2 separate regions of the Homo sapiens genome follow, and region 2 is linked to region 1. A link means that fine-mapping ties the variant in region 1 to the expression of a gene that starts in the linked region. Tissue or cell type: whole blood. Region 1 holds a variant in brackets; the other region holds the start of a gene. All regions are shown on one strand. Distances are from middle to middle.

Region 1 (2,753 bases):
AGCTGCTCACCCAAACATGAGTCGCCCAACTGAAGTGACCCACCTGGGACAGGAGGGTCACCCAGGCACCAGCCCTCTTGCCCAGGGCGAGGCACGGAGCAGGCCCTTAGTGGGTATGGAGTCATGGACCATTAGGGTGTGAAGGCCTTTCCTACGTTCTGGAGAGGCAGAGGATGTCACAGATACACTGGTAGTGTGCTGAGTGCTCACCAAGCCACCTGACTTGTATTATCTCATTTAATTCTCCATCAACCCCATGGCATAAGTACTAGTATTGCCCTCATTTCATAGAGGTGAAAACTGAGTCACAGAAAGAATGAGTACTTTGCCCAGAGTTACACAGCTTGTAAGTGGTGACAGGGATCTGAGGTTCCTGGGCAGACTGATGGTATCTTTGCATGGTGTGGGATGGAAGGATTCTGGACAGTGAGAAGACTTTCCCTCCTTCCTGCCCAATCCTGCATGTGGTCATAAAGTACTAGTAGAGTGGAAGTCGGCTCAGTCTCTGTCCTTGCAGAACCCACACTTGTCTGGGGGACACAGTGAGCAGGTCATGGTGTGCAGAGCGTGAGTTTAGACAGAGGGATGCCAATGCTGCGGGCGCACCGCGGCAGGCACGAGGGTAGCAGGGTGAATCCAGGGAGGCTTCACAGAAGCAGTGATATTTGAGCTGACTTGAAAGGTGAGTGGGAATGTTCAGGGAACAAGCCCAGAGGCAGTGGCCCTTCCAGGTTGCAGGAACTGGTTGTGTAGGTCGAAGCTGGAGAGGTCAGGGGGCCACACTCCTGCTTGGCTATCAGTAAGGAGCCATGAAGAGGTTAAACTGGGATGGTTTAGAAACATAGCAGGGAGCTCAGACGTAGGGCTGCCTCTGTGACTTTACACCCTCAAGGGAAATGTAGTCTTGGTTCTTCCTCACACTGACCTCCCCTCAAGGGCTGTTGACTTGTTCTGATGATCTCAGCAGTTTCCCGGGATGCAGGATATTCCAAGCTTTTTGTGCTTCCAAGATAAGGGGACGGATGAAAGCAGGGAGAAATTGGAGGGCCAGGAGGAAGTGCCTGCAGACGCCTGAGCTGGCCCCTCAGGAAACAGCAGTGGTGGTGTCAGTGTCCCCCGCCACCCCACTTCCACCTGGCTGGAGACAGGGGTATCTGGCCCAGTGGAGGCAGCAGAACATGGCACTTCTGTACTTCTTCCTTAATCCTCTGCTAACTTGCTGTGTGACCTGGGCAAGTCACTTGGCCTCTCTGGGCCTCAGTGTTTTTCTCGGTAGCACGGGGTAGAGGTGGAGAAGAAGAGTGCCTGCTTTGTAGGCATGTGTGTGAGGGATGTGACTTCACAGACTGCCGATCACTGTGCCAGCGCCAAGGGAGCCGTCCCCAGAATAGGGAGAGCAGTACACGATGGAAAGGCTGCAGACCACAGTAAAAAGAGCACAGCCCCAG[G/C]GGGGGAGGCCCTGACTGCCCCTGGCTCTCCACCTTTCTGTGACTTTGGGCTTGGTGATGGTGGACAGGTCACTTCCCCTCTCTGAACCTCAGTTTCTCCCAGGGTAAAGAGGGCAGGAATTCCTGCCTGGCAGGTTTGGCTACAAAGTGGGAGGGAGGAGGACACATTCTGGTGGGAGGCAGCCTAAGGGGCTGGCCCCTGACCCACTTAATCCCCTCCTCCTCTGCTCTTCCAGTGGGAGCGCCTCTGGTTCCTGCTCCTCACCTTCACCTTTGGCCTCACGCTCACCTGGCTTTACTTCTGGTGGGAAGTCCACAATGACTATGATGAATTCAACTGGTGAGTAGGGGCAGTGGGTGGGGGAGGAAGGGGCCCAGAGCTGGGTATCCAGTAGCTGGGACCTGGGGGCTGGAGTTAGAGCCTGTCTCCCAGGTTGGCCCTCTGAGCTCTGCCACCAGCTCTCTGTGTGGCCCTGGGCAGGGCCTACTCCCTGGGAGCCTCTGTCCTGCTCACCTCCAGGGCTTTGGTGAGGAGGCTGGTGTGGGACTATAGTGGGAAGTGCCAGAGGTATGGGTGAGGATTGTATCGCAGACTGGCAAGAAAGAGGAGGAGGAAACAGAGAGATCCATGCCCCGAGGGGAGTCCTACTGCGAACTCAGGGAAAGCTTCCTGGAGGAGGAGGCATGGGAACTGGGCCTTAAAGAATGACTGGGATTGAAACCTGGGGAACTTTAGCTGCTGGTCTTGGAGACCCCTTGGTGCTTGCATTGATGATTCAGCCTGCATTCCTGGCCTCCTGAAGAGGTGGAGGGGAGCCTCAAAGAACAAAGGCTTACAGGAGCCAAAGCCCACTGGGGAGACACAGGGCATTCCTTCCCGGTGCTGTGACCATGGACAATAGGAACATAAGGCTGGGCCAGGGCTCAACCGGGGCAGGGCCCTTTGGTTACCCCCTTTGTATACAAGAAATCTACAGCTCAGAGAGACCAAGGTCTCTGCAGAGGAGATAGCCCTGGATCCTAGGCCTCCTAACTCCCTTAGCTAGGCCCTGGGCAGGGCTGGCAGATGAGTTTGGGGACAGCTCAAGGTCCTTTGTGGGTACCTCAGATCCAAAGGCAGGGCCGTCTGAGCCACTTACCTGGGTACAGGAGGGGCACCTGTTTTTTCCTCTTCGCCATTCCATCGCCTGCCTTTTGCTAAGCAGTGGAGAGGTCATGGGAGGAGGGCAAGGACCCAGGGTTCTACTGACAGATAAGGAAACAGGCCCAGGTCACACAGCCAGTTGGGGACAGCTGGGGCTTGGA
Region 2 (2,500 bases), 63 kb before region 1:
CCAGTCCCTCACCTGGTTCCCTGCCAAGTAGCACCTTTATTCTTCTTTTATAGATGAGGAAACAGAGGCTCAGAGAGGGAGAGTAACCTGTTAAAGCCACACAGCTTTACCCTAGAATTTGATAATGATGGGTGGATAGAACTCTGTGCCAGCTGTGTGGTCTCGGGAACGTCACTTAGCCTCTCTGTGCTGAGTCCTCATCTGTGAAATGGGGTACCTATCACAACATAAGGTTGGTGTGAGGTTTACAAAGAGACTGTACTGTGCCACCAACATCCCTTAGCTCCCCAGGCCAGTTAGCGGCTTTCACATGGTCCCTACCCCACTCCCCCGCGGCACACATTCAACTTTCATTCATACATCAGTTCCCTCCAACACCTTCTCTGCGCCTGGTCCTGTGCACACACTGAAGACGGCTCCTTGGCCAAGCACAGGGCTCACACCTATAATCTCAGCACTTTGGGAGGTCGAGGCAGGAGGATCGCCGGAACCCAGGAGATCGAGACCAGCCTGGAAAACATAGGGAGACCCTGTCTCTACAAAAAATTTAAAAATTAGCCAGATGTGGTGGTGCACGCCTGTAGTCACAGCTACTCCGGAGGCACAGGTGGGAGGATCTCTTTAGCCTGGAAGTTCGAGGCTGCAGTGAGCCGTGATAGTGCCACTGCACTCCAGCCTGGGCCACAGAGCGGGACCCTGTCTCAAAATAAAATGAAATAGAAAATAAAGACGGCTCCTGCACCCAACGCGCGGGGTGGGAAGGGGCGGGAGCGGACTGCAGATGCATCACGATTCGAAGTGTGTGTCCTCACACAACTCTGCTCTTGAGTTCGTATTTTTAAAATTGACCACGACGCTCCTCCTCGGGGATGGGCGCAGGGAAGGGAGGCTTGTGGAAGACAAATTCGCTCATTTCCAAAAACTTATTTTTCACCGTTTCCTGAAATCTGAACACTTCCCAGCCCAACTCTCACCTCTGAGCGCCGAGCACTAGAAGCTAGGGAGAAGCAAGGTGTCGGTGGCATCCCACCACTCAGGAGGGCTCGCTCCAGCGTCCCTGGGACCCCTGACCCCGGATATCCTCCACCTTGCCTCGCCCCGGCTTCTTTTCCTACACTGGCCCCTGCTCCTTCCCCGTGACCCCCGCAATCCCCGCACAGCAGTCCCCATGCCCCCGTCCCAGGCAAGCCAGCCCTCTCGCCTCTCCCTCCTTCCGGGTCCCGAGGCCAACCCCCTCCCCGATTCGGCCCGTTCCGAACCCCCAGCCCCGCCATTGTCCTCTTGCAGCCGCACCTCTCCATTGTCCGCCCCGCCCTCTCCGAGGTAGAATCCGCTTTCCGCAGGGCGCCGCTCCGCTCCCACCCTCGGATTGGCTCCTGCGGCCCCACGCGCGAGGCCCGGGAAGGGGAGAGGGCGCGCACCCCGCCCCTGCCCGCAGCCGGCCGGGGGCGGGGTCTCTGCTGACTCCGCCCCGTCCGGGCGGGGCCGCGCAGGCTGGCGCTGGGGCGCTGGGCGGCGCTGTTTCGGCTGAGCTCGGGCTGCGGCTCCGGTGGGGGTGGGTGGCGGGGATGACAGCGGAGGTGGCAGCGGCGCGGCGCTGAGCGAGCGGCGAGGGAGCAGGGGAAGAGGAGGAAGTGGAGCCGCGGCCGGGAGCTCGGGAGTCGGCCGCCGCGCCGAGGTTCGCCCCGTTTTGCAGAGAGAGCCGAGTCGGGACCTGGAAAGACTTCCCCGCGGGGCTCCGGCCGCCGCGCCTCCCCGCCGGCGCCTGCCCTGCCCTGCCCGTCCCAGCCCCGCGGTTCGGGGCGTGCGGCCGGGACGCGCGGAGCCCCGGCCCTGACCCGCTGCGCCGGGACGGGACGCTCCTAACGCCGCCGTACCGGTCCGTGGTTGCAGGGTCGCTCCGCGCCTTTCCGTCAGTGAGGGTCGGAACCCCAGCTCCAGGGCTAGCGCAGTGTGGCCCCAGGCCCTCGCCTCCGGTGCACGGGACCCCGGACCCCCCCAGCCTCTGGCTTCACGAGACCCCAACCTTCAGTTGGAACAGCTTGGAACAGCGCGAGCGCCCGGGAAGCCCTGGCCGGGTCGTGCGCTCGGTGAGGGGTCCTAGGCGGGCAGGACAGTCGGACCGAACCGCCGGGCTGGTGCCGCGAGCCCAGGCTGTCACCTTCGTCCCGCCTCAGGTGAGGGGTTCAGCGCCTGCCCCGAAGATAACACAGGGGTCCCCTTCTGTCCCGGCGGCCTGCGAGAGCCAAGGCTGCAGGTGAGAGCCCCGGATGCGCGGCAGGAGCGGTCCCCGACCCCATCGCGGCAGCGCGGGGGCCAGCGGAGGGAGTGTCAGGGGAAACAAGCAGAGGCTGGAACTGGCTGGGAGGGGGCGCGGGAAGGGGAGGGGAAAGAAAGAAAACGGGTACTTATTGAGCGCCCATTGTGTGCGGGTTCGCGCCCTGCCCCGCCCCGCCCCGCCTAAGCCTCACTGCTACTCCTGAAATAGGTGTTGTGTATT

Evidence for each region. PIP is the estimated chance that this variant, and not a neighbour inherited with it, causes the effect.
Region 2: it holds the start of GDPD5, and the variant in region 1 is fine-mapped to the expression of GDPD5 in whole blood (INTERVAL, PIP 0.98).

What each region holds. Positions count from the first base shown.
Region 1 is chr11:75,461,821-75,464,573 of GRCh38, reverse strand. It overlaps GDPD5 (glycerophosphodiester phosphodiesterase domain containing 5), which reads left to right. Exons shown (of 17, transcript NM_030792.8): 4 at 1,685-1,788. Among named protein-coding and RNA genes, the nearest start is that of KLHL35, 30 kb to the right of the region's middle. The variant G/C (reference allele first, on the strand shown) is at 1,449.
Region 2 is chr11:75,524,967-75,527,466 of GRCh38, reverse strand. GDPD5 (glycerophosphodiester phosphodiesterase domain containing 5) reads left to right here and starts at 1,526. Exons shown (of 17, transcript NM_030792.8): 1 at 1,526-2,257. RefSeq lists silencers at 1,199-1,258, 1,309-1,828 and an enhancer at 1,675-2,175.